Linked DNA regions of Homo sapiens: region 2 is linked to region 1. The links come from fine-mapping of genetic effects on gene expression. A gene starts in region 1. The other region holds a variant in brackets. All regions are shown on one strand. Distances are from middle to middle.

Region 1 (4,397 bases):
ACTAAAGTTAAAGGACTTGTCCAAGGTCACATTAACATGTAACAAAGATAAAACTATAACCAAACTTTCCTCTATGCCATCCCCTGATATCTCATTCTATCAAACTGCTGTTTTGTTATTTGTCTGTCTTTTCTTGAAGGTGTTAAGTTCCTTTTACTTTTCCTTAATCACTGATTAGAGACGCACATTTCCATCATTTCGAGCTTAGATATTTTGGTTCTATCCTAAGAGTGAAAAAATGAGAAAAAAAAATGTTTTTTAAATCAAAGCTGGCCTTAGGCTGGGTGTGGTTGCTTGTGCCTATACAATCCCAGCACTTTAGGAGGCCGAGGTGGGCAGATCACTAGAGTCCAGGAACTTGTGACCAGCCTGGGCAATGTGGCAAAACCCTGTCTCTACAAAAAATACAAAAAATTAGCTGGGCATGATGGCACCCACCTGTAGTCTCAGCTACTCGAGAGGTTGAGGTGGGAGGATACTTGAGCCCAGGAGGCTGAGGCTGCAGTGAGCCATGATCATACCATTGCACCCCAGCCTGGGCAACAGAGCAAGACTTATTTTCTCTCTCTCTCCACATATATGTATATATCAAAGTTGGTCTTTACACACAACTTTTATTTAAATGCATGGCCAATTCAAGTAGCAGTTCTTAATTCCTTCTATAAGATTTTAAAGTAATCTGAGGCCTAAAAATTTTAAGTCTATTTTTTGTTTGGAAGACATGACAATAAATCTGCTCCCTCCTCCCATAACATATGTATTAATCCTTTGATTTACATTCTACTTAGAGTTTGACAATGAACCTGAAGTTGACCCTTCCCCCAAATTTACTGGGCCCTTATGAGGGCCAACTATAAATGTATAATATACTAACAAATACTTTGGTTACTTAGTGTATACTCATGTAAGTGTATACTCATACATTTTTATATATTAAGTCCAGGCTCACTCAATATATACAAGTGTATCAGTATAAGCCTTATTGGGAGATAGTCTATTTAAGATAAGATCTCTCTGGATAGGATACAAAAAGGCAATCGCCATTCCCTATGGACACACTTCAAAGGGGGAAGCTTTCAGCTTGGTTTTTGAATATATATAACCAACTCATTAAGGCTGTGTCAGCTCCTCATTAGCACTCAACTCAGAAAGGGTTTCTTGACTACCTCATGAAATAAGGGGTTTTGATAACTATCCCCCAGGAGTATAAAATAGCTTTCCTATTTACTGGAGAAAGCCACAAAATTAGACTTGTAAAATAGGACAAAGCACCCTTTCATTTTCCAAGTCACTTGGTTGGTGTAAAATTTCCATTCTTCTGCTCCTCAGATCATTAATGAACAAGGGATGCGTTTCAAAGGGTTTAAACAAGCAGACCTGAAAATTCTGTTCAGCTTAGTGTATGAAAATCAGATGTTAGATAGCTTTCTTCCCAGGAGGCTGGGGAACGCTCAGCACCTACCAAGGCTTCCTTCCCTACAGTTAGGACTGAGGTGTAGGCTTCCAGATACACTCGACTGCAGCGTCTAACAACTTCCAGGCCCTTGACTGTGATGTCCTTGGCATCTCCCAGGCCCAACCCGATGAGATAAAGCATTTCAAACTTGAGGAGAAGAGAGACTGCAAGACGAAGTGGACAGAAAAACCGTCAGTAACACCGAGGACATCTAAAATCTAGTGATGAACACGATGACAACCAAAGTAGCACAAGAGAAGAGGCAAGTCACAAGGAGGGGTTTGGGAACCTTATGTCACGCTTAAGAACTGGGATAAGAGGTTTTAAACAACCCTACCAGTTTTGCCTCTTGTTACACAAACCTAGGAGCAGCCAATTACCCGCTGAGAGAATCGTAGGTAGTTCTCTGGCCTTTACAAATTCTTAACTACCACCTTTCCGCAGAAGCAACTGCAAAAGCGCCGGCTCCGTGCAGAGAAAAGGCCCACGCCGCCGGCCTCACCTACGGTGCCGCAAAATGCTGGTGCCTTTACTGCACTTTACGACTAGCGGGAGGGGGCCGGGCTAGCGGGCTACTGGGCTGCGGAGACCAGAGCCCGGCTCCACTGAAGAAACCCGCCGGCTGCTGGGGCAGGGCGGCGAAAGGTCAGTCGGCCGAGAGGAGTCCGTGGAGCCACCGTTTCATAGCCTCAGGGAAAGGATCGGGCGTGCTCACGAGCCCTCTAACCCATGGCTTAAACACCCGCTTCCTAAGCCTGGGTAAGTGCAGTAGCTCTTCGCTCGAGAGGAGCCACGTGGAAGAGAGTCGGGAGGGGCCCTGCGCCCTACTCCTCCTCTCCAGAAACAGGGAGGGCTGGGAAGGATTTTCCTGATTTGTCCCCGGATTTGGCCGAGTGCACAGATTTTAATTCCAGTCTTCTCATCCTCCTGTAGTTCAACTAGGTGTCTTCCTGGTGAAGCGTGAGATTGGCAAACCCAGCAGTGAGTGTGCTTCTGATTTCCCAACAAGGCAATGACTCCTTGGGTTTGTCCCCAAGACCTTATGCCTGGAGTGCCCCAAGGATGTTTCAGTCACCCTCAGTGTCAGGAATCCCAGACCTTCCTGTACCTAAAGAAGTGACCTTTAATAGTGCTCAGGGATTTCAGACCTCTCAAGTGTTTCTGCCGGGGGAATTCTTATAAAGCTGTTGGTTACATGTAATTAGAAATAGGGAAGATTTGTTTTGACTGAAAATGCTCTTCCCAAGGTGACCTCATCCAAGTTAAAAAAGACAGCTGTCATTGCTTTTCTTAGCAGGCAGTGTTGGTTACTCAGAATTTTCCTGTTGCCTCCCCGACAATGCCCAACTCCGCTTCCTTGAACCTTGGCTTTTTTTCATTCCCAGGTTCCATCCACCTTTTTGCACTTCCTATCTATAAACTCTTCGTGGCTGTGTTTTATCCCCTCTCATTACGTTGATCTATTCCTCACACCACATACACACCCCAAAAAACTCAAAATGGATCGTAGATGTAAATGGAAAACCTAAACCTATACCAGAAGAAAACATAGGAGGAAATATTCGTGACCTTATTTAGGCAAATATTTCTTAAACCAAAAGCGTGATGAAAAAAATTGATAAATTGGACTTCAACAAAGTAAAAATTTATGCTCTTCAAAAGACTTGAAGCCACATACTGAAAATATTTACAAAGCATGTATCTGATGAAGGACTTGTATGGAGAATATATAAGGAGCACTCAGAAAGCAATAATAAAACAGTTCGTTGTTTAAAAATGGGCAAAAGATTTGAATAGACACCAAAGAAGATACACAAATAGCAAATAATTATTTTAAAAGATCTTAAACAAACAAAAAAAGATCCTAAACATCATTAGACATTAGGAAAATAAACATTTAAATCACAATGAGCTACCACAACCCACCTATTAGAATGGCTTAAGTAAAACAAACAAAACCTCACAAAAACTGGCTGTTCACTCAGAATTCCTAGTATCGCTAATATTTTGTAGATTCAAATTTCAGCCTCCTATCCAGACTTCCTCCCTCTTGGCTTCATGTTAACGTTCTGCTGGAAATCTTCACCTAGATAACCCGGAAGCATATTCAACACATCCAAGGTTGAATCCATCACCTTCCCTTTCCATTTTGCTTTTCTTTCCATATTATCTACTTGGATGGGTCGGGGGTGGGGGTGGGTGAGGAGAGTATTGTCATCAACAGATTAACCCCAGCCAGACACTTGGGAGTCACCCCCACATCGTCTGTCATGTCTGCCTGTATATCTCAATAGAAACCATACCGTCTATCACCATCTTGATTCTCAGGTCCTCATTTTGTCACTCTTGTAGCTGATAATAATGTCTCCTTCACTCAAGGGGGTCAGAGAGTTATAGTTAACAATCTGAAAATATTACACCCCTTCTAGATCCTTCTGAGGCCAAGAGAAAGTCCAGGTTTGTTAACATACCCCACAAGATCATTCGTGGTGTGGCCACTGCCTACCTTTTTAGCATCATCTCTCTCCACTCCATACCATGAGCTTTCTCGCTTTCTCTCCAGCAATACTGAATTGCTTGTAGTTCTCTGCCCACAACATGCTGCTTTGTTCCTCTACGCTGCTGCCTCATCATAGAATATTGTCTCCCATTCTCTCCTGCCTAGATCACTAATACCCATTCTTTAAGACCAAGTTCAGGAAGCCTTCCCAGAGACCCTCACCCCCCTAAGCTAATTTAGGTTTCTCCTCTTCATTACAGTATTACTCTACATATACTTACTAACCAATTTATGAGATTTTATATTTGTTCATTTGTATTTCTTCTTTACCAAACTATTGATTTAGTTAATTCAGGGACTGCATCTTATTTGTATGCTCATCTTAGGTTTAGCACTATCCCTTGCACATAATAGGTATTAAATAAATGTTTGTTGAATAAA
Region 2 (4,397 bases), 180 kb before region 1:
CTAGCTGGTTATTTTGCCCATTGGTTGAAGCTGTTTCTTTGTAGCGTTGATGGTCTTTACAATTTGGTATGTTTTTGCCATGGCTGGTACTGGTTGTTCCTTTCCATATGTAGTGCTTCCTCCAGTAACTCTTGTAAGGCAGGCCTGGTGGTGACAAAATCTCTCAGCATTTGCTTATCTATAAAGGATTTTATTTCTCCTTCGCTTATGAAGCTTAATTTGGCTGGATATGAAATTCTGGGTTGAAAATTCTTTTCTTTAAGAATGTTGAATATCGGCCCCCACTCGCCTCTGGCTTGTAGGGTTTCTGCAGAGAGATCCGCTGTTAGTCTAATGGGCTTCCCTTTGTGGGTATTCCAACCTTTCTGTTTGGCTGCCCTTAACATTTTTTCCTTCATTTCAACCTTGGTGAATCTGATGATTATGTGTCTTCAGTTTGCTCTTCTCAAGGAGTATATTTGTGGTGTTCTCTGAATTTTCTGAATTTGAATGTTGGCCTATCTTGCTAAGTTGGGGAAGTTCTCCTGGATAATATCCTGAAGAATGTTTTCCAATTTGGTTCCATTCTCCCTGTCACTTTCAGGTACACCAATCAAATGTGGGCTTGATCTTTTCAGATAGTCCCATATTTTCTGGAGGCTTTGTTCATATCTTTTCATTCTTTCTTCTCTAATCTTGTCTTCATGCATTATTTCATTAAGTTGATCTTCAATCTCTGATATCCTTTCTTCCACTTGATCAATTCGGCTATTGATAGTTGTGTATGCTTCACAAAGTTCTCGTGCTGTGTTTTTCAGCTCCATCAGGTAACTTATGTTCTTCTCTGAACTTGTGACTCTAGTTAGCAATTCTTTTAACCTTTTTTCAAGCTTCTTAGCTTCCTTGCGTTGGGTTAGAACATGCTGCTTTAGCTCAGAGGAGTTTTTTATTACCCACCTTCTGAAGCCTATTTCTGTCAATTTGTTAAACTCATTCTCAATACAATTTTGTTCCCTTGCTGGCAAGGAGTTGTGATACCTTGGAGGAGAAGAGGAGTTTTGGTTTTTGGCATTTTAAGCCTTTTTGCACTGGTTTTTCCTCATCTTCGTGGATTTATCTACCTTTGGTCTTTGATGTTGGTGACTTTGGATGGGGTTTCTGTGTGGATGTCCTTTTTGTTCATGTTGATGCTATTCCTTTCTGTTAGTTGTCCTTCTAATAGTCAGGCCCTTCTGCTGCACGTTTGCTCCAGTTTGCTGGAGGTTCACTCCAGACCCTGTTTGCTTGGGTATCACCAGCAGAGGCTGCAGATCAGCAATGATTGCTGCCTGTTCCTTCTTCTGGAAGCTTCATTCCAGAGGGGCACCCGCCAGGTGACAGCCAGAGCTCTCCTGTATGAGGTATTGGTCAACTCCTGCTGGGAGGTGTCTCCCAGTCAGGAGGCATGCAAACCAGGGACCCACTTGAGGAGGCAGTCTGTCCCTTAGCAGAGCTTGAGTACTGTGCTGGCAGATCCGCTGCTCTCCTCAGAGTCAGCAAGCAGGAACATTTAAGTCTACTGAAGCTGCACCCACAGCCACCCCTTCCCCCCAGGTGCTCTGGCCCAGGGAGATGGGAGTTTTATCTATAAGCCCCTGACTGGGCCTGTTGCCTTTCTTTCAGAGATGCCCTGCCCAGAGAGGAAGAATCTAGAGAGGCAGTCTGGCTACAGCAGCTTTGCAGAGCTGTGGTGGGCATCACCCAGTCCAAACTTCCCTGTGGCTTTATTTACACTGCGAGGGGAAAACCGCCTACTCAAGCCTCAGTAATGGCTGACGCACCTCCCCCACCAACCTCCAACATCCCAGGTCGACTTCAGACTGCTGTGTTGGCAGCGAGAATTTCAAGCCAGTGGATCTTAGCTTGCTGGGCTCCCTGGGGGTGGGATCCGCTGAGCTAGACCACTTGGCTCCCTGGCTTTAGCCCTCTTTCCAGGGGAGTGAACAGTTCTGTCTTGGTGGCATTCCAGGTGCCACTGGGGTATGAGAAAAACTCCTGCAGCTAGCTCAGTGTGTGCCCAAATGGCCGCCCAGTTTTGTGCTTGAAACCCAGGGCCCTGGTGGCATAGGCACCCAAGAGAATTTCCTGGTCTGTGGGTTGCAAAGACCATGGGAAAAGCATAGTATCTGGGCTGGATAGCACCATCCCTTACAGCATGGTCCTTCATGGCTTCCCTTGGCTAGGGGAGGGAGTTTCCCAACCCCTTGCACTTCCTGGGTGAGGCACCCCACCCTGCTTTGGCTGGCCCTCCTTGTGCTGCACCCACTGTCTAACCAGTCCCAGTGAGATGAGCCAGGTACCTCAGTTGGAAATGCAGAAATCACCCACCTTCTGCGTTGATCACACTGTGAGCTGCAGACCAGAGCTTTTCCTATTCGGCCATCTTGCCAGCCACTTTCTCG[G/A]CCATTTTAAATTACATGGGCTATCTCCCTTGTTCCATGCCCTGTCCACTTGCTCTTTTTAAAAACATTCCTATTTTAATATAAAAATACTTCATGATGTAATATTTTATATGTGCAAAAGAAATTATATAACTTGTGCTAGCTTAAAAAGTAAAATAATAAAATAAACACCTGTTAATCCATTACCCAACCTCAGAAATTTACTATCACCAATATCGTTGAAGCTACCTGTTTGTTCCTCCCTGATCCTATTACCCTCTTTCTCCCAGGCGTTAACCACTATCTTGAGGCTTATGTTTACTTTTAGTCTTTCTATGGTTTCACCACAAAATCAGCAATGTATTTTTTTGGTTTTGAAATTCATAAAAACGGCATATCACACAACATGAAGGGCCATCAGCATATCCTCACTAGAATGTCAGCTACATAAGAGCAAAGGCTTTTGTCTATTTTGTTCACTGATATATCCCAAGTAACTATAAAAGGATCTGGCACATGGTAGGCACTCAATAAATATTTGTTAACTAAATTAATAAAAATATAAGCCTTCCAAATAGTTTTGTCCATTTCCTCATATCTGAAGCTTGACAGTTAGGCTTAGTTGCTTAACTGATTGAACACCATGATTGTCAGATACCATTTTTGGTGGTTTACTACCTTACCTAATACAGCTATTTCACTTGTGGCCTTAGTTAATGCTCTATGCATGAACTAAGCTCTTGTAAATATATCCATTTTGATAATGTAAGTTTTCTTTCTGCTTTTCTCCACTGTCTGATTATAATTAGCTGGAACAAGAAATGCTTCTTTAATATAATGAATTTTGCCTCAGTCATAGAAACTGTAAGATAGGACAAAAGAATAGATTTCCTTCTTTCTGCTGCTGAATCACAGATTCTCCTATGTAAGGAATACTTACTTAACCCAACATCTCAGGGATTCATAGATCTGACCAAACATTAGAGTTCTTTGTTGTCTTGTAATATGTATGCTGTTTTGCTGTATATCACTATCAGCATATTTTATACATTTTTAATGTAATTTACAATGCACAATTCCTTAAGTCAAATGTCCTGCACTGAGAACTCCTTCAGGGATTAGTTTTTTTTTTTTTTTCAAATGTGCATTTCTTAGGTTTACTATTTCCTTAGTATATATATTTAGAGTGTGTGTGTATATATATATATATATATATATATGTATATTTTTCTTCCTATTGCTGTTATGGAATCTTTGCTGGAGGTCCTGTGTGATAAAACCTCCAATATGTGGAATGTTATTAACATTTGCTAAAGACCTTTGGATGCAATGCAGAGTTTCTTTTCATGAGAGAATTGTGCAGTGGAAGAGAGAAGACTGCTTTGTGATTATAGCAGTTCTTTAACTGAATTAAGACAGGCAATCATTGGTGTTTCTACTGTGTTGCCAGGGACTTCTATTTATTATCAAGGCATTCTTTTATATTCTGCTTTGTAAAACTGGAAATTCCCTGAGAAATCACCAGGAAAGCTGAATGCCATATAAAGAAAAGAAAACCGAAACCAAGGAGGACAATATGTGGGAAAAAAAGAAGCTAAGACGTTAGAACTGTGCTATTTCCTAAAGATTAACATGTGTTTGAAAGATATAACAATGTTAGTTTTTGGACATAAACATACATATTGTTTGTACTAAGTGTTGCTTTTTCCTAGTCTGTAATCAATGAACAAGCATCTCTTGAATATGTAGTATTTACTTAGCACAGTTTGAGACACTGTGGGATATTCTAAAGAATAATCTGTAGAGCCCTTGCCTTTCAATAGCCTACAATAGAGTAGGAGGAATACAATGGCACATTTAAGCCATAAGACAAGGCAAGATGATACTTAATTACCATAAGTACTAAATTATGAGGTACAGACTATTAGTACTGTAAAATGTACTGGGTTCCCAGAATACTCTCCTTCCTATCTGAGTGGTAGTTACATGGGTATTCTT

Evidence for each region. PIP is the estimated chance that this variant, and not a neighbour inherited with it, causes the effect.
Region 2: its variant is the best candidate, but not a certain one, in a credible set for the expression of DPH5 in whole blood (TOPMed, PIP 0.52).

Annotation. Positions count from the first base shown.
Region 1 is chr1:101,023,847-101,028,243 of GRCh38, forward strand. DPH5 (diphthamide biosynthesis 5) reads right to left here and starts at 1,938. Exons shown (of 8, transcript NM_015958.3): 1 at 1,837-1,938; 2 at 1,463-1,620. The coding sequence starts at 1,597. DPH5-DT (DPH5 divergent transcript) reads left to right here and starts at 2,000. Exons shown (of 5, transcript NR_109849.1): 1 at 2,000-2,215. RefSeq lists enhancers at 1,468-2,667, 1,760-1,869 and a silencer at 3,661-3,720.
Region 2 is chr1:100,843,687-100,848,083 of GRCh38, forward strand. No RefSeq gene overlaps it. Among named protein-coding and RNA genes, the nearest start is that of EXTL2, 49 kb to the right of the region's middle. The variant G/A (reference allele first, on the strand shown) is at 2,421.